Linked DNA regions of Homo sapiens. The protein of the gene in region 1 interacts with the protein of each later gene in a pairwise test. Each region holds a gene or a part of one and is shown in the gene's direction. Other genes may lie near its edges.

Region 1 (7,039 bases):
CTAGACATTTACACATAGACCAATAGAGAAAACTGATCAAACTTAAGCAACTCTGGATAGAATGTGGTGCTTAGAAATATGCTGTTAAGTTTAGAGAGCCCAAAATAAAATATGAAAAAAACTGAGTGTGACATGCGTTTTTTAAGGCTTGTTTTACAATTTCTATCTGGGAGGATGACATTGGGTTTTCTCATTTAAGTTGTAGAGTTTAAGTTGGGAGAGATTTTATAGTGATAAGCCAATCCCCTTATTTTACAAGTAAAGAATCTGAAGCCCAAAGAAGTGAGGTACTTTACTAGCATTAATAAACACTAATATTTATTAAGCACTTAGTGCCAGGCATTGTGCTAAAAACTTTATATATCTTATTACATTTAAACATCACAAAATCTATATGAAAGAGTGTATAGTATTATTTCCCATTTTACAAATGAGAAAACATATTTCAAAGCAGTTGATTTTCCCAGGACCACACAGCTACTATACGTCACAGTCAAGACCCAATCACGGGTTTGACTTCTAATCACCAAGTTATGCTTGACTAAGGTCAATATAATGAACTTTTGGCAGAGCTTTAGCTAGGATCTAAATCTCTGGAATCTGAGATGTGTGTGTGTGTGTGTGTGTGTGTGTGTGTGTGTGTGTGTGTGCATACATTCCATAAACACCATATTACTTCTACAAAGTTAGAGATTTGTAAGATTACCCAAATAAATGGTGTATACCTACATTTGTTTTAGATATTTTATTAAAACACACTCTCTCAGTCTTGATTGAAAAAATATAGCATGAAAATTTGCATAAAATACATTTTAAAAACATTTATTTCCTTCTGCTTTTAAAATTGTATCATACTTCCAGAGGGAATTATATTTTTATAGTGTAATCTCCAACAGAATAAATAAAATTTGAATTGTTGATTTTTATTTTATTGTGGAGTCAGTGAGCTAAAACTGAAATTGGTGGTTTCTTAATATACTTGTATTGAGTACACTATATCTAGGTACACTAGTTTGGGAGCAAATATCGATAATTCTAGAGATATATTATGCATAAGAAGGGAGCTTGAGACACTGGCATATTCAGAAGCTATCACTGATATCCTAATACCTTTCCATTCTGCATAAAATTTTAAGGAAATAAGTTGAAACCTGTCTGTCCAAATGAGGTCATTCTTGTGCCAACTAGTGGCAAAATTGCCTGGATTAAACCAGAGATCTAGGTATAAGGCAACTGGATACATGAAATTATACTGTTAGTCAATTAAATGCTTCACCTTACATCTTCCATCTGTAAAGAAATCTAGAACAATATCTGTCTTACCTTTTGTTTCACAAAAGGTGTCCTATTATTTAACAACTAGACATATGTGCATTTGGGTTGATCCTTAGAATCTTTGAGGCTATTATTGTCAGGGTGGCAAAATTTAGCAAACTATCTCCTTAGCTTCTTTTCCCTTGGAGTTAGGGACAGTTTCTTTCAAGCTTCTAAAAACAGTCATGCAAACATGTGGCTTATATACTCCCCTAAGCACTTTTGTTATTAGGCAAATATTAGTGTATGGTGCTCATGCAAGGTCATATACTACTAAGTGGCAAAGCCAGGATTTGAGGGCAGGTGTTATTCTAGACACTGTATGCTCAACTGTTAAGCTACCAGGTATAAGTTAAGGAGCTACAGTGAGGCCTATCTTCATTGTTTTTCAAAAAATTTATGTGTATACACACACACACACACACACGTATATGTAAATTCATACACACACACACACACACACACAGTCATATAACATGTATATTTTCCCCTAGTTTCTTTTCTCCTTCTGAACCTCTAATACCTGTAATATTTTCCTTTTTTTTTCCTTAGTGGAGATGACATTTTTTACATAAATAAAGGCTGAAGTTAAGGGGAAAGGGCTCATTGTGCTGACCTCCAATGGCTTCACTGGCAGAAGGCACATAAACCCATATTCTTTCTTACTGTCAAACCAACCAATGTTGAAAGCACTTCATGAGTGGATTTTATTAAAACATAGATTATATTATTATATAACTTTTCTAATACACTAATTTAATGATTCAATATTTTCTTATTTGGCTAGCTTAATGTACCTATTGTATGTTTTATGGATGGAATAGCTGTGCCATTTAAGAAAGTAATTATCTGAGATGCATTTTCAAAATAGCTTTGCCCTTTCATAGACCGAAAATTTGTTGTGTTGAAATCCCCTTGTACTAATTTGTTTCCACACTGCTATAAAGAACTTCTCGAGACTAGGTAATTTATAAAGAAAAGATATTTAACTGACTCACAGTTCCACATGGCTGGGGAGGCCTCAGGAAATTTACAATCATTGTGGAAGTTGAAAGAAATGCAAGGCACGTCTTACATGGCAGCAGGAGAGAGTAAGAGCGAGGTGGGAACTGCCAAACACTTTTACACCATTTCACTCATGATCATGAGAACAGCATGGGGGAAACCGCCCCCATGATCCAGTCATTTTCCATCAGGTTACTCCCTCCACATGTGGGGATTACAATTCCAGATAAGACTTGGGTGGGGACACAGAGTCAAACCATATCACCTCTCAACAAAGCAACAATTGGAAGAGATCCAGGCATTGTAAAATGTGGAAGAAGAAATATATTCTGTAATAGTGGGAAATATTACATTAGGTATTAGAATGCTCAGTCCTGACTCCTCATTATTCTAAGACAAAAGTATAGCCACATGAATTTATTTTTGAATATCTATGTTAGTTAATAAAGTAATGAGTCAGACACTTTATTTAGGCTCACTTCCATCACTAATAAATGGTTAAAAGATGCTGGAAGTCAGTTTGAGATTATTTTTCTTCTCTCAACTAGTAATACTGAATGCAGAGAGAAACATTTTGAATTCAGTATTGTTTGTGATATGGAGCCTCAGGTAGGGATTGTTGAATCCCTCCCTTGCTATTCAAAGTGTGTTCCATAGAGTGGTAGCATGAACACCACCTGGGAGATGCTTAGAAACTGCAAAATCTCCTGGCCCCACACTAGATATACTGAATCAGAATCCGCATTTTAACAAGACCTCCCAGTTACTTACTAATATGTATATTAATGTCTGAGAAGAACTGAAGTAAAGTGAAATCTTACTTCCTGTACAACAGAGACTTTTAAGAGCTGGTGGTCATAGAAACAAAAACTTGAATTTTCTTTTGTCTGTTTTCGCATTTGTAAAGAAATATGCGATCTAAGCATTCTCCATTATACATTGTATGACAAATACAGATCAGCTTTGTTCCATTCTGAAGTATGCATTGTATCATTAAGAGAAAAAAACTACACCAATGTCATAGGTAAAATCGCTAAGCCTCTGAGTATATCCACTCACATTGGTGACAGCAATGGCTTTACCATTGAAATGATATTTATCCTAATTACTTGACTTTTCAACAGAGTGTTACAGAAGAATATAGTTGTATTGGGTTCACTGTCACCAACATCCTCAAGGGGAATGGTATGTTGTCTCTTTGCTGCCATAATATATCACCACAAAATTATTGCCCTAGAACAACCCAAATTTATTATCTTATGGTTCCAGAAGGCACAAGTCTGAATGGGTCTTTTTGGGTTAAAATAAATATGTCAGCAGTACTTTCCTTTTTGGCACCTCTAGAGAAGGTTTTGTTTCCTTGGCTTTTCCAACTTTTAGAGGCTACCCCCAAAAACAAAAGCAAAATTTTTCCTACACTGACAAAATCTATCTTTGGATCTCTGTTTGAGATATTCTGCCTTAAGTATCTTTTGTTTTTGTTTTATTTTTTTCATTTGAAGAATAAAGGAGGAGTTTTACCTGTGGCTATCAGATTTGGGGTTCTACTCTATGAGACTTTTAAGTCATTATGCAATTTCTTTATTTTTATTTTTTTGACAAGAAGTCTGGAGCATGATTACATTATGCATTTTCTTACTCTTTAAAGTATTTGTGGGGATAATCCTTCATTATTTGATTGGCAAAAATATATATGTTTATAGTGTGTAACATGGTGATTGGATATATGTACACATTGTGGAACAGCTAAATCAAGCTAATAACAAATCAGTTACCTCACATACTTATTTTGTGGTGAAAACATGTAAAATCCACTCTCTTAGCAATTTTCAAGCATCCAATACATTGTTATTAACTGTAGTCACCATGTTATACAATAGATCTCTTGAACTTATTCTTCCTGTCTAACTAAAATTTTGTATTCCTTGATCAACATCTACCCAATCCCTCACTGTTCTCCAGCCTTGATAACTACCATTCTACTCTCTGCTTCTATGAATTTGACTTTTTTTTTTTTTAGATTCCACATATGTGAGATCGCGCAGTATTTGTCTTTCTGTGCCTGGCTTATTTCACTTAATATAAAGTCCTCGAGGTTCCCCTATGTAGTTGCAAATTACAAGATTATTTTTTCTTTGTCAATGCTGAATGGTATTCCATTTTGTATATATGCCACATTTTCTTTATCCATTCATCTGTTGATAGACACTTAGGTTGACTCCGTATCTTGGCTATTGTGAATAATACTGCAGTGAGTGAACATGGGAGTGCAGATATATCTTCAAGATACTGATTTTATTTCCTTTGGCTATATATTGAGAAGTGGGATTGCTGAATCATATGTGGTAGGAGTTCTATTTTTAATTTTTTAGAGACCTCTATACTGTTTTCCATAATGACTGTACTAATTTAAATCCCCACCAAAGTTGTACAAGAGTTTCCTTTTCTCAATGGGGATAAATTTATGCTTTCACATTTTCATTGTCTAAATACATGTGTGTTTGTATGTTGTTTCTACACTATATATGTGTATGTTTATATAATGTTACCTACTTACCACTTGATGGTGTACTTTGAGGGATATCCCCCTAACCTCTAATGTGTGACTAAATCTTTTTCCCCTTAATTTGTGCAGGTTGATGTAAAATCAGGAATGAGAGTTGTAAGATAATTAAATAGTCTATCTCTTTGTGTATGTACTTCCCTCATTAGTAAGTTAAAATACAACCTACATTTTAAAAGTATTAACAAGACTGTGATTTGCAAGATTGTGAAATGTTAGCTTTCAATGGTTGTGGCAGTACAAACACTCTCCAGTGAAACATAGAAGTGATTTACCTGCACATTTTTTAGGGCTAGAAATGTACAAAGAAACACAATTTATTGAAACAAAATTTACTCAACGAATATGAATGAATCAAGGTACTACTTAGCTCATTCGGAGACGCTGTATATCACTGGTCATTAGTGCCATATATCACTGTCATATATTTTGTATGGATGGATGCATGTGGGATTACATAAAAACAGAGCCAAAGGAAATAGTCATTCAGTTGAGTCCCTATTTATGTTTTTGTCATTCAGCTGTTTATCCATTTGAAATTGATCTTTTTACTTTTTTTTAGTATTTTTAATTTTTTTATTCTTAAATTTTGTGGGTACATAGTAGGTGTACACATTTATGGGGTACATGAGATATTTTGATATAAGCATGCAGTGCATAATAATCACATCATGGAAAATGGGCTATCCATTCCCTTAAGCGTTTATCCTTTGTGTTACAAACAATTCAGTTATACTTTTTTAGTTATTTTAAAATATATAATTAAATTATTTTGACTATAGTCACCCTGTTGTGCTATCAAATACTAGGTACTTATTCTTTCTGATATCTGATGGTATGATTAGGTATTTATAGTTTTAGGTGTATATTATTTGAACACATTACCATGTGAATAAAGCAAGTGTCATTAAAGGCTAATACATTTTTATCATTGATTAAACATTCTGAGATCCAGTATATTTACTTGCTAATGCATTTATTTGGTAGAAGCTTTCTTTAGAATTTAGTCATTAGGGATGTAGCTATAGACATATATGTCCCTTTATATTTTCATATATTTATGTGGAGTATGTGTACATAAAATTTTCTTGCAATTTGTGTTCATGTCACTATGAATATGTTTTATGTAGCTGGCAAAACTGAATATTAATTACATAATTTTAAGTGTGTTTTAAAGCGAGGTCAGTGAACAATTTCTTTGTGCCCTGAGAAAATCATATGATAAGTTTTTATTAAAATCTCCTTTTGTTTCTATTTTCACCTAAGCAATATAAGTTAGTTTTATCTCTAAAAAGACAGATAAGAGATGTGTACAATACATTTCAGTAAATTCTAGCTTAATAAACAGATAATATACTCTCATAGTATTAGAATAAACAGATGTCTGTCACTAGACTTTATGCTTTGAAGATGCTGGAATTTATTTTTTACAATATCTAAAAACTTGGTGAGATGATTTTAAAATAAAGTAAATAGAGAGGTGAATCCCCATCTCTACTAAAATACAAAAATTAGCCGGGCATGGTGGCCAGTGCCTGTAATCTTAGCTACTCGGAGGCTGAGGCAGGAGAATTGCTTGAATCCAGGAGGTGGAGGCTGCAGTGAGCCGAAATCGCGCCATTGCACTTCAGCCTGGGCAACAAGAGCGAAGCTCCATCTCAGAAAAAAAAAAAAAAAAGCTTTTTGTAATATTAAATTTGTACTAAAAAATTCTGGAGTGGCTTCCATGCATATGTGGACACGATGCTATTTGTTGGGCTTAACTTTCACATTCTTAAACATTTTGAAAGATTAAACTCTTATTGCATAGACAGGGATCTCAGGATCAGTCTTTTTTTTGCCATCATAATATCATAATGTACATATCCTTCATTTGAGGTTCATATATAAATTGTGTAGGAGTGGATTGATGTACTTTAAAAGAGTTATTCGCAGTACTGATGGCCAGTTGATGATATGTTAACTAGTAACAAAAATAGGCTTGGCGTAGCACATTACAGTTTATTAAGTATTTTAATGAAGATGACACATCATTTGAAGAAGAATAGGACAGGTTTTATAGTCCCATTTTCCAGATGAAGGAACTGAGGTTCCAGAGGTCAATTATCTCTGCTAAAGTCACAAGACTAGCAAGTAATGAAGCTTAAGAGCTTAATA
Region 2 (7,973 bases), on another chromosome or scaffold:
TATGCAAAGACAAAGAGTCATCTAATAGTAAGGTATGTTTGGGGATTCCCTCCTAAGAGAAAGAGTTACACTACTAGTCTTCGACTTCCACTTAAGCCTATGGCTATACTGTCCTAGGAAGCCTCGCAACCGAGACTGCATTACTTTGGTTAACCTCTTTGTTCTTGGTTCTGCTTGACTGACTTTGACACAGTACCATATTCATTCAACAAGTATTTATGGAGTTCCTACTAGGTACAAGGTAATAAGGAGATAGAAAATGGGAGGAGATAAATTCATGTAATGAACCAAAATATTTGGACTTTTTAAAAGGCAGCTAAGATCCACTGAAGTGTTAAGCAGGAAGTGTTAACTCAGCTGTTATACGAATCTGCCTCTGCAGGGTTGAGTATGGATTAAATAAAGGATGGACTAGGGACAGGGGGAACAGTTAATGGACTAAGGCAGTTGTCCATGCTAGAGATAATGAGGGCCTAAAGTACGGTAGGAGAGAGAGAGAGAGAGAAGGGGATGGATATGAGTGACATTAAGAAGGTGAACTGGCCGGGCGCAGTGGCTCATGCCTGTAATCCCAGGACTCTGGGAGGCCGAGGCAGGCGGATCACGAGGTCAGGAGATCGAGACCATCCTGGCTAACACAGTGAAACCCCGTCTCTACTAAAAATACAAAAAATTAGCCGGGCATGGTGGCAGGTGCCTGTAGTACCAGCAGCTCTGGGAGGCCGAGGCAGGCGGATCACGAGGTCAGGAGATTGAGACCATCCTGGCTAACACAGTGAAACCCCGTCTCTACTAAAAATACAAAAAATTAGCCGGGCATGGTGGCGGGCGCCTGTAGTCCCAGCAGCTCTGGAGGCTGAGGCAGAAGAGTGGTGTGAACCCGGGAGGCGGAGCTTGCAGTGAGCCGAGATCGTGCCACTACACTCCAGCCTGGGCGACAGAGCAAGACTCCGTCTAAAAGAAAAAAAAAGAAAAGAAGGTGAACCTGTCCTTGCCTTCAAGAAACAAGTACCTCCACAATCTAGTGGGAGATACTAAAAAACAAGTAAGGCAATAATTAAAATACAGTGTCCTAAATGCTGTGATAGGTGTTAAGTACAGTAGAGCGCCATCTAATGCTCTAATTAGTGGATGTGACATTGAAGCTGAGACATAAAAGGGATAAAGAAAAGAATTCTAACAATGTGCAACAGCTTAGTGGAAAAGGAGATAGGACCCATGCAAATAATTTAATTCTACTGGCTGGTTATTAGGAATACAAGAATGGGGAGTTAATAAGAAGGCAAGAGAAGTAGATGTTAGATTATAAAGAACCTTAAATCCAAGTGAAATGCTTGAACTTTATTGCCCAGGATGGAGTGCAGTGGTGTGATCACGGCTCACTGCAGCCCCGACCTCCTGGGCTCAAGCAATCCTCCCCCTTTAGCCAGCATGTGCCACCACGCCTGGCTATTTTTTTTTTTTTTTTTTTTTTGTAGAGATGAATCTCACTTTGTTGTCCAGGCTGGTCTCAAACTCCTGGGCTCAAGCAGTCCTCCTGCCTTGGCCTCCTAAAGCACTCGGATTACAGGCATGAAGGCTTTGGATTTATACTTCAGGGACACCGCCTAGAGATTTTAAGCATGGAGAATGTACAATACTTGGCAATAGGTTGAATTAGGGTGAGAGAAAGAGAAGTCAAGCATCATGTCCTTTATGATATAATGATTACAAGCTCAAACCAGAGTGCCCTCATTCAAATCCCAACTCTATCCTTTATCAGTTGAATGACCTAAGGCAGATTACTTTTCTATGTCTCAGATTTGTTATCTAATATGTGGATAATGACAGGACTCATCTCATATTATCAGGCTGAGTCTGATGAGCTAATACATATAAAGTGGTTAGAAGAGTGCCTGGCACTGAAGAAAGTACACAATATGTGCTAACTATTTTATTAATATTATGCCCTGATTTCTGGCCTGGCAAAGAGGTGAAATTTCCTAGGACAGATTTTATAGGAAGAGGAAGTATGGGGTTAAGATAATTGGTTCATTTTGACTGTTGAACTAGCGGCCAACGGCACAGAGCTCAATGGATGGTAACTGAGGCCACAGGAAGGTGGTTCAGTGAGAAGATTTAAGGGCCTGCGACATAAGACTGAAGAGCAGCAACATTTAACGGACATACAGAAGAAGGAGGGAGAGCTCCCAAAGGAAGCTGAGGATAGAAGAAAAGGCAGAAAAATTTTAAATATGCTATTATGGAAGCTTCAAGGAGACAAGATGGTCAACAGTGCCAAATGCCAAAGATTGAGCAAATAAGATGAGGGTTGAAAAGGATCTATTAAACAGTATCAAGAAGGTTATCAGTGATCTTGGTAAGAACCAGATGTACTGAGTAAATAGGAGGCCCAAGGTGGATACAATGAGGGTATTCTAGTTGTGAAGTGGAAAAGCTAGGGCAGTAGGTAGAAAGGAATGTGGAGTTAGGAGAGGACTTAAGATGCAATAGATCTGAGCATGTTTAGATGCTGGTAGGGGAGTCAAGAGAGGGCAACACTGGAGAAGGGAGGTCCTTGAGAAAGTGATGGTACTGGGATCCAGAGTTCAGGTAGGGGCAGCCTTAAAGGAGAAAGTAACAAATAGGAGTGGTGGTCACTAATAAGCTGGATGGTGTCTGTGGATATGGAAATTGTCAAAGATCTTGTGAAATATCTTTTCCCAAGATTAAGGCTCTTACTCTTGTCTGCATGTGCAGAGTGTGGCAGGATGGCAAAGTAGTTAAGGACTTAAATTTTTAATCCTGGCTCTGCCACTTACTAATGACTTTAGGGAAGTGGTTTAACCTCTAGCTGCTTCAGTGGCCTCAGACGTCATAAAATGGTTGAGAGAATTAAATGTGTTAATATGCATAAGCCATTCATGTTTGGCAAATATGAAATGTTAACTGTTATGACAGGGTTCTCCCTTTCCCATCTCTATTCTGTGCTTACTGTTCCTATCATATACCATGTATTCCCTCAAGTGAACAAAGATTCCTAACCAAGACACATCAAAGTGGCATTTACCTTGATAAATTAACTATAGTCCAAGATATTGACTTTGGTCAAAAATGTGATCTTGTTAGGGTTCCAGAATTGATCCAATTCATGTATTGAGCCAATGCATGTATTTTAATAGTGCTAAAAATATCTCTCTTCATCCAGGTATTGTATATACAGTGTGAATAAAACACAACAAAGGTATTAATTCAACAAAGTTTTCATCAATTACATGACAGACATTGTTCTTAGCACTTGGGAATCATCAGTGAGTCAAATGAATAAAGGTGATAAGGAGGGCTATTAAAAAAAGTAGATGGCCGGGCGAGGTGGTTCACACCTGTAATCCCAGCACTTTGGGAGGCCAAGGTGGACAGATCACCTGAGGTCAGGAGTTTGAGACCAGCCTGGCCAACATGGTGAAACCCCGTCTCTACCAAAAATACAAAAATTACCTGGGCGTGGTGGCAGGCGCCTGTAATCTCAGCTACTCGGGAGGCTGAGGCAGGAGAATCGCTTGAACCCGGGAGGTGGAGGTTTCAGTGGGCCGAGATGGGCTGGGCAACAGAGCGAGATTCAGTCTATTAAAAAAAAATGTAGAGCTGATAAAGGGAGGATTGTAACTGTGTATGTGAGAAAACTTACATTGCAATTTTAAATAGGGTTGTTAGGCTAAGCCTCATTAAAAAGGCATCATGTGAGAAAAGATGCAAGAAGCTGTTCTAAGCACCTGAACACGTAAACCAATAAACAGACCTCAGTGAGGATGTGACATTTCAGTTGAACCCCGAAAGATAAGAAAAAATCACACAGAGTGAGAAAAAGTGAAAACAAAGGGATGTCCAAAAATCCCTGACTGCCAGCTTATTGATTTACAAAGAGAACTATAGACCATCTATCAGATATTCAGATGAGCCTGTGCAATTATTCACTGTAGGTCTGGTGACAAGCCAACTCTTAAGTTTGCTTGGTGAATACATAATCAGAAAAGGACTGAGTTACATGATATGAACGTCTGACGGAATGGGCTCTGGGGAAGACACTTCCTTAACTCAGGAGAGCCCCTGCTCTTAAGCCGGGATACCCTCTCTCCCCTAGAGAAGGCGTGGATTCATCTGGCACAGGTGTGCCCCTCTTTTTTTATTCTATGCTCCAGTAGCGGATCAGACCCCGACTGAGTAATGCACGGTATTTCAGGATATTTCACAGTCGTTGGGATAGTGTCAAGCCTTTGAAGTTCTGGTTAAATTTTGTTCCTTCAAAATCACTTTGAATCTTTCTACTCTCACCCTTTAATGACTAATTTTTTGAAGTTTTTCCTCGGAAGACTTCCTTACCTTCCATGTTCTTGGGACACTTCGCTACCTCTGCACTGCCAAACACGGCTCCCCATCACTGAACTGAAAGCGAAAACAGCACAATCCCATCTATCTTTCTAGGCAGGCGCAGCTTCTTCATAAGACCTCGCCAAGACCCTATTATTTTGTCCCCTCTCTAATGATATACAACTTACTCAGAATCTCATTACGGTCGTGTGCATGTTTTACTTCGCCCTTTTGGCTCCCAGGGGGCGTGCACACAGCTAGCGTCCAACATGTTTTACGATATTTACCCTCCCTCCTGTGTTCGGGATCAACCGTTCCTAACAGTGAAATTAGGTCGTCCCAAGTGCTGAGGAGAAAGTGTGCACACAAGAGGCTTCAACACCGGCGGAGGCGACCCGCAAGTCCTGACCCACCGCCAGAAACACCGCGCGCGCCCAAGACCCCACGGCCGCCCACGCGCTACGGCCCGCAACATCCCGGTTTGAAGCGTTTCCGCTTCACCCACCTGCGGCTTCCGGTCGTACCCACGGCCTCGTGAGGGCTCGAGCTGGAAAAGTGCGTCATACGACCCCGAGCAACCGGCAGGCCTTGCGCGCGATGCTGCCCCGCCCCCTGAGGGCCGGCCCCCTGAAGCGCAAGAGAAGGAGGGGCGCGCAGGGATCGCGCCTAGTCTCTCCGCCTGCGGAGCCGTGGGGTCCCGGCAGCCCGCAGGAGTGCTAAGTAAGGGTCCTTCAGGGCGGGAACCAGGTTCCAGGCAGGGACGCAGGCTACGTTCGAATAAAAGTACCGAAGGTCATAAGGCCCCAGTTCAGATGGGACTTCCCCGCGTGACAGCACAGAGATAACGGCCAGCCCTGGGCGAAGGTAGGAGAGCGGGCGTGCCAGGTTGGAGGGGTCATTTCGTGGAGCGAGTTTAGGGGGAGCCCCCAGAAGCCCAGAGCAGTCAGGTCACACGACGGGCAGGAAGGAGTACCAGCAAATACTTTTTATTGAGCATACAGGTATTACGCTGGGTCTTTACATATCTCCTCCAAATAAGTGAGTCCAAATGGCAGGTAACTCGAAAGGTGAGAAATTCAAGTCAGCTTTGAAAGACACATTGCATTTAAAGGAAAAACGGTATTCGCAGATGATAATACAGGATGGAGTGGATCAGAAAACACACTGAGGCTACTGATCATTCCCATTTGCCAACTCACTGCAGTTGGCAAGAAAACTCTGTGACTCCATGAGATGGGAAATTACACCAGCAGTCAAGGTAGCAAGGTAATAGTTTCGGCTAAGTTTTGCTGCATAACAAACTGCCTCAAATAGTGGTTTATATCTCTAACGTGGGCAAGGTGGGTGATTCTTCTGCTAGTTTCTCCTGGGCATATTCATGTGGCTTCATTCAGCACAGGTTGGCTACGCTGGGCGGTCCAAGATAGCCTTATTCATGCTCTGGCAGGTGCTGCCTGGCTGCTAGGGCATCTCAATTCAGGCCTAATCTTGGAAGCAGCGCCTCAGCCATATTCTATTGGCCAAAACAACAACAAAGCCAGCCCAGAGTTAAGGCGTGGGGTAATGGACTTCACCTCTTGATGAAAGAAGCCCAAAGAATTTGTGGTCACCTTTTTCAACCTTGCACAGAAATTAATCTCTCCTTCAGTTAAAATAGAAACCACTAAGACTTGCCTCTTGGAGTAAGAATCATTCAGTGTTCAGTTTGCTGATGCTGATACGGTAAATGACCAGGGCTTCATATAAAGCTACAATGAAGACATAATGACACCTCCTTTCTTTATTATCACACCTTTTACCAAGGTCACTCTGAGTAAGTCTATCTTGTATTATGCAGGTGGGAATGAATTTTGTTCAGAGTTAACTGCACTAGGAATTTTCCTAGTTATTATTAAAAACAGTCACAGAATATTGTTGCTCTTTGCTTATATTACTTCCTTCTAAATTCCCTTTCTCTGAAATCTGAGATGGTACAACTTTGGTTTTTTTTCCTAGTTTCTTGATGAAGAGGTTTTAAAGAATCCCATTCCCTCCTCCCTGCTCCAGGACTTCTGTCCCTTGGTTATTCTTACCTTTACCTACTTCTTCAGCTTCTCCACTGGAACCTTTCAAGTGACACTCAAACATGCTGTACTCTTTAACAATCCTCCAGTGACCTCATTTCTCTTTCCACTTGTCATCCTGTCTGCTACCCTTCTGAGCCAAGCTTCTTGGAAAAACTGCTATACATCCAGTATCTACTTTCTCACTTCCCATTCATTGTTTCAACGTACTCCAAAATGGCTTTTCCCCATTATTCCAGCAAAAGTGCTTTTGCTAAGGTCACGGGTGACATTCATATTGCTAGATCCACTGGACTTTTCAGTATTCATCTAAGTGTTCATTTGACTACCTCAACCTGGAGATTCCTGTGGACAACTTTGACATTACCCTGTCAACTCCTCAGTCCCTTTTGCCAGGTTTTCCTCCAGCCTCACTGCCAACTCCGCAGTCCCCTTTGCCAGCTACCCTGATCTAGTCAGCCCTAAATGTTGGAGTTCCTCAGATCTTTATCTCACACTACATTTTCCTTAAGCAATTTCATTCATTCTATGGCTCTAAGTACCATTTCTGTATACAACTTCAAAATTTATATTTTTTAGTTCCATAGATACAACTGCCTTGTAAACCTGGTAAGTCTAAAAGCCATGCTCCTGAACTCACTCTTTCCCCCCAGGGATCCTGCATGCATAAAGGCTAAAGCCTTTTTTGCCAGAAGCCCTTTCTTCTTCCTCACTTTCCGCTTCCAAACCATGACTACATCCTGTCAGACTTCACCTGGACTCTATCCCCTTCTCTCCACTTTTATGACCATCACCATCATTCACTTAGACAACCATGTCACTGCAAAAGCTATAAATGTCCTCAGAGGCTGCTCTATGGAGTAGCCATTCTGTTTCTTTACTTTCTTAATCAACTTGCTTTCAAAAATGTCCTGAGATACGCTTTCCCATTTCCCACGTTAAAATCAAGTTTATGGCCCAGTGGGAGGATCACCTGAGGCCAGGAGTTTGAGACCAGTCTGGGTAACATTGTAAGACTCTGTCTCTAAAAAAATACAAAAACATGCTGGGTATGGTGGCACATGCCTGTAATCCTAGCTACTAGGAGGCTGAGGCAGGAAGATCGCTTAAGAACAGGAATTCGACACTGCACTGAGCTATGATCGCTCCACTGCACTCCAGCCTGGGCAACAGAGTGAGACCATCTTAAAAAAAATCAGTTTTATGTGGTATGTCTTGTGTTGTGTTATGTCCCTCTGAATGCTATACGTTTCTTCATGGCATATCACAATTTGCATCTTATATAATTACTGTATAATCTCCTGTCTTTCCTAGTAGACAGGCACAAAACTCTACAAGGCACTGGCTATTTTATTCACTACTGTATCTCCAGCACCAAGCACAGTGCCAGGCTAGGTGAACAAATGAATGATTTATGTATTTTTTTTCTCTTCTAAAGAATTACGTTCTGTAAATAATAAAAAGCATTGTCTTTTTGGCTTATGTCCCATTCAACAATTGTTTTTCACTCTCAATATTCCCTACAAACACATTTGTTTAGTATTTTTCTGATTAATAAAATAT
Region 3 (7,039 bases), on another chromosome or scaffold:
TATAATTTATTTAACTATTTGATATCGAAAAATAATCACATATTGGAAGTAGGATATTCTTGGAGGCAGGTTTATGTAATGAGAAAAAACGCAAGGTAGAACCAGACTTACTTGGTTCCAGTTCCAGCCCTACTATCTAATATCTGTGTTACTTTGAGCAAGTCACCAGACCTTCCAGTTCCTTTGTTTCTTCATCCATAAAATGAAGATAATAAGAGTACTTACCTCATAGGGTTGCTATGAGTTACTTTATGTCAACTGCATACTACAGCATATAATAGATATTAGCAATTATTTTAAGCTCTTCTGACACTTGGAACCAAACTCTTGACATTTGTCTTTCAAAAATTGCTTTTGTGCAGGACCAACATCCAACAGGGGTCTTTGAATTCAGGTACACCTTGAGACTCAAGATCATAGGCTACATTTGGTACCAATTTACCAAAAAGGTTACTGGACAGACCATATATCTTTCCAAGCAGCATCAGGTTTTTCTCTCAGCAGGAGTCTCAGAAGAAGCAGTTGGCATGGCAGTTCACACTGCCCTGTGATTGGGAAGCTGCTTTCCCAGGTGACAGACCAGGTGCAAGAAAGTGAGATCCACACCAGTGGAAGTGAGGTTCACGTAGGCTTAGAATCCTCATGTAAGGCGTATGTCTGGTAACAGTCTTGAATCCAAACTATAGGGAGTTAGACTAGTGTCCTACGAGTAGAAAGCATTCTAGTGTTTTGACACAATCTCTGTGAGAAACTTCCAAAAGCAAGAGAAGGAATATGTACCATGTCTTTTTGAATATTCCTCTTAGCTATCACTAATTACAATAGGGTTTTGGCAAGGGTTTGCTAGCAGACATTCCAAATTGACATAGTTGTCAAGGATTTATAGGTATTTAGTGTTTTTGAGAAAAGATCCAGGTATTCTATACAAACTACTTACATGGACGAAATGTTAACATTTTATGAGGAAACAGAAAATGTATTTTATTGTTGCTAAACTCCACCTTTTTGTAGTAAATGGCTATTGATATGTTTTTAAGAGCAAGTCCTTTATCCGTAAACATTTGTAGAATTGGTCCAATTTGTACCGTTGTTAAACTGAAACCATATAATACCACAAAGCACAGAAGAGACACTATAATAAAAGTAAGATTTATACAGGATAATATTTAACAGGATTCTATTTAAATTGGCGTATTAGGGTTATTTGCAAAACACATTACATAATTAGCATAAGAGTTAATTGAACATAATCACTTATCCATCTAGATACAAAAAAATGAGGCAGAACTTATTGATTTATGTTTGGGCATAGACAATATTGAGCAGCTTATTGTGACATTAATAGACTATCAGGCTCAGTTATTTTTATTTTTATTATTTATTTATTTTTTTATATGGGGTTTCACTGTCACCCAGGCTGCGGTGCAGTGACGCCATCTTGGCTCACTGCAACCTTTGCCTCCTGGGCTCAAGTGATCCTCCCTCCTCAGCCTCCTGAGTAGCTGGGGCAACGGGCACATGCCACCATGCCCACGCTTGGCAATAATTAACAAAACCTCCTGGAATAATAGCTCTTTTTTCTCTTTTTTCCCTACAGTTGGACAGTGTCACATCCCTGATCCAAGCAGCCAAAAATTTAATGAATGCTGTAGTGCAAACAGTGAAAATGTCTTACATTGCCTCAACCAAGATCATCCGAATCCAGAGTCCTGCTGGGCCCCGGCACCCAGTTGTGATGTGGAGAATGAAGGCTCCTGCAAAAAAACCCTTGATTAAAAGAGAGAAGCCAGAGGAAACGTGTGCAGCTGTCAGACGAGGCTCAGCAAAGAAAAAAATCCATCCATTGCAAGTCATGAGTGAATTTAGAGGAAGACAAATCTACTGAAACCACTATTCTACATATAGTGCCTATATGACAAAATCCTGCCTAACCACACTGCTTTATTTTACACTTAAGAAGTTCTGTAATTTCACTAAGTTTTGGTGTTTAACTCACAAATAACATAAAATATTGGGCGCTAAATCAACAAAAGCAATATATATTTGGGATCATATCACTGTCATTTCTGTATGGTCAGCACCTAATAGTTAAGGAATATTTGCTTGTTGAATGAATGAAATTATCACGTGTCATTCAGCGTTTCCCATCATAGAGATTATCTACTATTCGTTACCAAATAAACACAGGAGAGGCCAGAGAGTCCTGTTTATCTGTAATACTTCATGTACACTTATCATCCTTATCTTGAATTAAAACACTAACATGAGCTCCTAACTTGGTTTTTTAATAGAAACAAAAGACTTTTATAAAATATTTTCCCATTTAATCTCCATGCTTTCTTTATCTGATCTAACCTGGCACCTAACCAGGCAGAAATGTATGATTCCTGCCATAGCAAAAAAACCACCTTTTAATCTCTAGATAGCTGTACTCATTGTCAACTTATTAGGCTAATATCCATTATAAACTAATCAAATTTGAATAGTTAGGCTACTTGCTGGATTTTGAAGGTCAACCTTGTTTATTAATAAAATGCTTTCTTAACATTATAAAGGTTACAATGAGTTCTGATGCCACATACTCACCTTTTGGGTTTCCAATGTGTTAGAGAGTTCTGTACTTTTGAGTGTTAGGCCTATCCGAATACATATGTGAAAGAAGAGTTATCACCCATTGGGAAAATGAGACAACAAACTATATCCCAAAGTGAGTTATATTAATAATAACAGAAGTGTAAGTTCTGTATGACCCTATTTTTACAAACATAAAAATACATTTTTATCAGCTTGCAATTGTAATTAAAAGGAAAATGGCAGTTTGAAAAATCTTTTGACGTTGAGTAAAATATAACTGCATGAACTGTACCATTGAACTATGAAGCAGTTAATGGCAATGAAGCTGGAGTGATTTTAATAACGTTCTTTTAAATAAAAGTCACTGGGGTCATTTTACAACTCCAGTCACTGTGTTCATTCCTAGTTGAGTTCATAATGGACTTCATAATAGTCTTAGAGTCTAGTGTACCTCTCTCTGTCATTCTCTCTCTCTTTTTCTCTCCCCTGATGACCTGCCTCTCTCTGTCTTTCAAAAATGTCCTTAACAGAAACTCTTTGGAGGCCATAAGTTTTGTTTTCATTTTTTCTCATTCATAGAGTTCTGATTCACAGACTTTAAAAAACATTTTCTATTCTACATTATCATAATAGTATTATATTGTACCTTTTTACTTCTAAAACATTGCCATTGATGAGAGGCGTCTCAGCAACGATGTAACCTTAGATTGATGAGAAAAAAATTTACACATACAATACCAGTTGATATTAGGAGAACCAGTTTGGGTAAAAGGATGCATGAAACATAGAAAAGCATAAAGATTGACAGTACGATATGTGTGGAATCTTAAGCATAATGGTATGGGAAAAGAAGGATCTATTTAATAGGTCATTATTAATTATGCAGGAAATGTTAAATTTCTTGTAATGAATTATTTCAATCTTCCAAGTAGCTGGATTGCCTGAGCTCAGTGTAAAACTTCCTAGGAGGTGAAGGCAATAAACTCCTCCCTGTTTTGCACCATAGACTGGCCTACAATAACTATTCTGAACAGAATGCACTGCCCAGAAGAAAAGGCAGTGAAGAAGGGAATTAGGGAATTCAGATGACTCTGTTTTTCAGAATTATCTAGATGATTGAGGCAAATAGAGATTTTCTTTTATTGAAATGCTGCCATCATTTTCTGCTCTAAGTGTAGATGTTGCACGAGTGACATCTGTGGTATATCCTTCTTCCAGATAGAAGTATAAATTTATAATTTAGTGGGGAGAGGAATTTTCTTTTAATCACCAAACTACCAGCTGTATAGAAAATTTTTTTGAAATCACCAAACTAGCAGTTGTGTATCTTAGCTCCTAAAGCCACATTCACAAGAATCATAAGCATCTCATTTAGAAAATCTAATGTCCACCGGACCCAACATCATCTTTCCACATGTTGGAGTTTAGAACATGCAGTATTGGACACCAAAAGAACAGAAATAACTTGAAATTATACAATTACCAAATAACCTCCATCTCTTTGATAAAAATGACTTTTTACCCAAAGTGAGATGTGAACAAGTTCTCCTCTTTAACCCAGGCAGATTTTCAGCTTAGCTCAAAGCAAACTATAATTAAATAAAACAATAAAAATTTTAACTCAATGAATATCCTAGGAGTTAATCTGCTGTGGTAATCGATAGTGACATAAAAACAAGATGCATAGAGCTGAAAAAGGCATCTGTCCACCTGAGTGAATTCCTGTAGTAGGCAGCATTTCAAGATTTAGTTTGATTCAAACCTGCTGATAAAACAAATGCTTATATGCAAGAAAAACTAGCAGCAAGATATGAATAAATCTCCCCATTATGTTAAAAACTAATCAGCATGACACATTTATATTTAGGTATTTCTTCTGCAGAGGATTGCCAGAAATTTCTTAATGAGAGTGATAATTTGGTGATCCACCTATGTACCTTTTGATGTCTCATCACAGAGATTAGTGCTTCCTCTGATAATACATTTGCTTGATCCTGCTAATAAGAACTCACCTTTCTTTTTAACGAAATCAATTTGTGTTAATTTACATAGGGAAAAACGTTCCTTGAGAGGGAGGAGAGGGGTGTTTACCACCCACAGGAGCAGTTCCATCCCTGGTTACCCACCAGTATCCCTGCCAGATGTTAGACTGGAATTAGAATGAAAATTTAAAAAAAAACGAAATAATAATCCACTAAATGGCCTTCTAATTAGAGAAATTTGAAGATTTCTATCAAATATAAAAAGTGAGAAATAGAAATCATTCCCTTTAATTTATGACAAATTAAAATTATTGAAGTAAAATGTTTCTAAGTCAGTTTCTGGATAGTTCTTGAATGAGTCAAGAAAAAACTCAAACACTAAATTTCTAAGCTAATTTGTTCATTATTCCTTTCTGTTTATTATTTATTATATGAGTGCAAATTGCAAATGTATTAGAAAAGACAATATAGCCTTCACATTCACAAGTGTGCCTTCTGGCCTTTGAAATCTTTTAACATAAGATCAATATAACATATTTGTTCCCCATAAAAATCTCTTATGTACAGGGAATAAGGTCCTCCATAGCTACACAGAGACACCCATTCTTGCAGTCTGGCATTCTTAACACCTTTAGCTTCAAAGGCAGTCGGTTTCAATTTCAAGCTAAAATTGTGAATATACAATTAAGTGCGCAACTTGGGCCTTCAGACCAAATAATTAATGCTCCTCAAATTAAATAATGAGTGGCTGAAAAGCCTAATGTGTAACAACAGAGTAAGTGACTTCAACGGCTTCCTGAACCTTCATTTTGAGGGTGTTCTCATCTCACCCACCTCTGGGCTAGGTATCCTCTGTTAATTGCTAACAATTTCCTACCAAAATAGTGCAATCAGGACTGCCCATCACAGCAAATTACTCCAATTAATGCCCTTTCCTCTTCTGTGAACCAAAAATATCTCTCTCCTGTCTCTCATCTCTATCCCAGGTATAAATTGACTAATAAATTTTACAGAGTTTTAGTCAAAATTATGAATTTTAATTTCCAGCAACATTATTCCTTTAGTCTTTCTATTCCCCAAAACATTCTTAAATTTTGGTATCAAATGTTCATTTCTGTCCTAGAGATTGTGGTTCCCATGGCTACAGATTTTTGTATAGTGGTAGTATGAGTGGAATAAGATCTGAGACTTTTCCTGGTGATATCCACCATTCTCTTGTGAACTCATTGCAGAATAAACAGCCTCTTTCACTTTCATTGTAAGTAGTTCTTTAGGTTGGCAAAGCAGGCACCAGAATCTGAATTTGAATGAAATCTGTACTTTCTTTTGTTGGCCTATTTTTTGCCAAGACAGCCTGCCTATTGTATATTTAGGAATCAAATATTCATTTTTTCTGTTTGTAAAGCCAGAAATATTTCAGTTAAAAAGAATATAATTTTATATTATTTTAATAATTCTTTTTAAGTAAAGTAGGAAAATTTCTGCCACCTGAGATGTTACTGTTTTTATTTATATGAAAATTCCATTTTTTTCTTTATGACTCTTTTCCCATACCATTATGATATGTTCAGCATTAGTATTTTCCATTTTACCACTAAACAAATAAGCCAGGACTAATAACAATAGCAGTTTGAGAGTTTTTATTTTGGCATTTTGGTTTTAATTAGGAAAGAAAACATGGATGCTATTAAAACTAGTTGTAGTTAAAAATGTTTTGAATGAGGCTACTAACGCTATCTTAGTCATCTCAAAGAGAAAGAGAAGAAGTAAAATTTTAAATACCTTTTTGGCATTTTTAACCAATTCATATGAACAAAAACATATATTCTATTAAAGCAAAATAAAGAATAGTTTAAAACACTAGTCTTCTTGCATGTGAATATTTTCCCCCTAACAGACAAGATAGAATCCATTTCTGGACACTCTAAAAGAAAGTAATGTTAATTGAGAGAGCTGTCTCCAAATGGAACTCAACCTGACCAGAATCCCATCCGCAGGCAAGAGATGGGCTGTGGGGCCGACCATAAGTTTTATTCTGAGACGAGATGCTTTATGGCTGCTGGCTGCATTATGGCATCTAGCAGTCCCCACTGGTTTGTGGGAACAAAACACATGGATTGATATTCAATATGAGTTTGGTAAGTTGGAGAAAAATGGAGACGATACGGAGTAGTCTAAAGGCACAACAAATAAGAAGGTGCCAGAGGTAGGGAAGGGTCTGAGAGGGGTAGTTGCAGAAGCATTTAGCTTTCATAGATGAGGGGAGAGTTTTTTGGTTTTATGAAGATTAGGCAGCCCTCCTGAGGAAAGTATTAAGGATAGAATGAGACACTTGTCTTGGTGGTTTGGTGAAGTCGTGTCGAAGGCAAAAGGATGAACTACACATATTTTGAGCATGATTTAGTAATATTGTTTGCAAGTTGAGAAACAGAAATTCAGCCATTCTCCTGACTGATGGTAGGTGAAATTCTTCCCAATATTAG
Region 4 (3,264 bases), on another chromosome or scaffold:
GGAATGGCAACTCCACAAAGTTGCTAGAGACCAGCTTTCTTCCATTTTCCCATTCTGTCATTCCCTAGGGGTGGTCTTCACTATGGTCCAAGATGACAGAGCAATACTGTTCTAATAGTGTTACTAGGCTGAAGGACCAGAGAGAGTTAGATAAATCCTCAGTTTCTTTAGAGTCTAGTGACATGTTTTATAACAGTTTATCTTAATATCCTTGTGGTAAAATGGAGAAATGTGAGTGAGGATTAATAACCAATTGAATTGGCCTGGCACGGTGGCTCAGCCTGTAATCCCACCACTTTGGGAGTCCAAGGCGGGTGGATCACGAGGTCAGGAGTTCAAGATCAGCCTGGCCAAGATGGTGAAACTCCGTCTCTACTAAAAATACAAAAATTAGCTGGGCGTGGTGGCAGGCACCTGTAATCACAGCTACTGGGGAGGCTGAGGCAGAGAATTGCTTGAACCTGGGAAGTGGAGGTTGCAGTGAGCCGATATCATGCCACTGCACTCCAGCATGGGCGACAGAGCGAGACTCCGTCTCAAACAGCAACAACAACTGAATGGCTGTAATACATTAATGTATACAGATGAATTGAGAAGTCTTCTAGTGAAATGGCTCAGATCTTTGTTCTTGGTCCAGTCCTGTTCAGTTTTTGATCAGTGCCTTGAATATCATTGATGACTCATTAAATTTATAAAGAGTGCAGAGGCCTCCTCAGAGAATGGATGGTAGAAATGCATTGATGAGAGAAGTTTTATCTATCTATCTGTCTATCTATCTATCTATCTATCTGTCTCTATCTAAGAAGTCATAAAGGCTGAGTCTAATAAGATAAAATTTTCAGTCCATTCTTTTGGTCCAAAAAGGCTTACATTCTCAGGTATAGCTTCAACATCATATATGAATATTACTAAGAATCTTAGTAGATAAGCTAAAGTCAGTATGAGTAACCAGTCTGATATAGTTTGCAAGAACACTCTTCATGGACTGCACCAAAAAAACCTATGGTAGCAAGAGACAGTTTTTATTAGAAGTACTGTCTGTTATACCACATATGGAGTCTTAAATTAGTTTTGGGTGTCATTTTGAGGCCTAGAGTCATAGAAGAGTGATTAGGAGCTTGTGGGGTATAAAAATAACTTGAGAATTGGCTGAAAGCAACTAGGGAAGATGGGGGTAGTAGTATGTGTAAACATTTGAGGCAGTAGAGATGTGGGACCCAAATACTGTTCCCCTTTTACTCAAATTCTGAGATGAGTTGACATGTTCTGTGTAGGGCTAGAGAGTAGAAAAATGGCCAGTAGGTGGTAGCCACAGAGAAGCAGTGCGTACAAACAAGTAAGTATGCAAAATTTGTACATACGGTTTCAGGAATAACTAGAATACCCATAAAATATCCACCTGCCTTAAAAACTAGAACATCATTGATAACTTGGAAGCCCTTGCATACCTCTCCATGATCTCATTTGTCTTCACAGCTATATAAATCTCATTGTATGATTATACCATAATTTATTCATCCTGTTGTTAAAGGATATTTGGGTTTCCAGTTTTTCTTTTTTTACTACCAAAGCACTACATTATTAATATTCTTGTATATGTCCTGATATGTAAGTGCAAAAGTTTCTTTTACAGCAATGGCTCTTGAAGAGTGGTTCCCAGACCAGCAGCATCAGCATCCCTTGGAACTTCTTTGAAATGCAAATTCTCAAGCCCCCTACCCAGACTTACTGAATTCAAAACTATGTGGGAGGAGCCCAGCAATCTGTGTTTCGCAAACCCTCCAGGTGACTCTGATGCACAGTAAAATTTGAGAACCACTGTTTAAGAGTATTGACATAGAATGGAATTGCTGGATCATAGAGTATATACATGTTCAACTTTTTTGAGAAGCACTAAACATTTCCAAAGTGCTTATATTAGTTTATGTCTCTACTATCAATAGATGAGTCACCCCAATGCTCCCCATCCTCTTCTGTGCTTGGTATTATCTTTTAGGTATTGCAAATACAGGAGATTTGAGTATTATTTCCTTGTGGCCTTAATTTGCATTTCTGATTATTAATGAGCTTGAGCATCTTTTCATATATTTAGAAGCCACTAATATTTTCTCTCGGTAAAATGCCTATTCGAGTCTTTGCACACTGCTGTATTGGATGTCAAATTGATTTATATATTCCCTGTACTAATCGTTTGTCTACATACAGTTTTATCCTGTTTTTTTTTTTATTCTATTGGGTCTTTTGCTGAACAGAAGTTCTTAATTTCAATGTCATTGAATTTATCCATCTTTTATGATAATGCTTTTTGTGTTTTAAGAGGTTCTTAGCTCTCCTAAAGTCATAAGGACATTTTCCCTCTACTGCTTTATGAAGTTATTTTGTCCTTTTCTTACAGTATGACTTTATTTTATGTTATGTACGGATATAATTTTTTTCATAATGAGTAAATAGCCCAGCACCTTTTATTAAAGAATCAATCCTTTCCCTACTGATCTTTAAAGCCCAGTCTGTCTTTTTCTTTTTTTGAAATTGTCTAGCTTTTTAATTTTTACCAACCAGATGATTATAAAATATCACATAGTAGGCATAAATTACATTTCTTTGTCCATTCCTGTTTCTTTTTCTATGAAATCTCTGTTTTCTTTTGTCCAATTTTTATTGGGTTGTCTTCTTATTGATTCCTTACATGTTCTGGATACTAATCCATTATAAATTATGTTTTTCAAATATATTTATCCAAATCGCAGCTTGCTTTTTCATTTTCTTAATGCTCTCTCTTTTTTTTATTATTATTATACTTTAAGTTTTAGGGTACATGTGCACAACGTGCAGGTTTGTTACATATGTATACATGTGCCATGTTGGTGTGCTGCACCCATTAACTCATCATTTAGCATTAGGTATATCTCCTAATGCTATCCCTCCCCCCTCCCCCCACCCCACAACAGTTCCCCGAGTGTGGTATTCCCCTTCCTGTGTCCATGCGTTCTCATTGTTCAATTCCCACCTATGAGTGAGAAAATGTGGTGTTTGGTTTTTTTGTCCTTGCGATAGTTTGCTGAGAATGATGGTTTCCAGCTTCATCCATGTCCCTACAAAGGACATGAACTCATCATTTTTATGGCTGCATAGTATTCCATGGTGTATATGTGCCACATTTTCTTAATCCAGTCTATCATTGTTGGACATTTGGGTTGGTTCCAAGTCTTTGCTATTGCGAACAGTGCTGCAATAAACATACGTGTGCATGTGTCTTTATAGCAG

What was found.
Region 2: the proteins of HDX (region 1) and TSGA10 interact in binary tests that used the Homo sapiens proteins (3 or more experiments, as listed by UniProt).
Region 3: the proteins of HDX (region 1) and CTNNA3 interact in binary tests that used the Homo sapiens proteins (3 or more experiments, as listed by UniProt).
Region 4: the proteins of HDX (region 1) and TTC5 interact in binary tests that used the Homo sapiens proteins (3 or more experiments, as listed by UniProt).

Annotation. Positions count from the first base shown.
Region 1 is NC_000023.11:84,492,433-84,499,471, reverse strand, and holds part of HDX (highly divergent homeobox), read left to right. Parts: intron 1-7,039.
Region 2 is NC_000002.12:99,151,931-99,159,903, reverse strand, and holds the start of TSGA10 (testis-specific gene 10 protein), read left to right. Parts: upstream 1-4,961; 5' UTR 4,962-5,211; exon of another isoform or gene 5,212-5,580; coding exon of another isoform or gene 5,581-5,613; intron 5,614-7,973. UniProt on the Homo sapiens protein: Plays a role in spermatogenesis. When overexpressed, prevents nuclear localization of HIF1A.
Region 3 is NC_000010.11:65,915,176-65,922,214, reverse strand, and holds part of CTNNA3 (catenin alpha-3), read left to right. Parts: intron 1-1,597; coding exon 1,598-1,885; 3' UTR 1,886-7,039. UniProt on the Homo sapiens protein: May be involved in formation of stretch-resistant cell-cell adhesion complexes.
Region 4 is NC_000014.9:20,285,709-20,288,972, reverse strand, and holds the end of TTC5 (tetratricopeptide repeat protein 5), read left to right. Parts: 3' UTR 1-2,746; downstream 2,747-3,264. UniProt on the Homo sapiens protein: Cofactor involved in the regulation of various cellular mechanisms such as actin regulation, autophagy, chromatin regulation and DNA repair.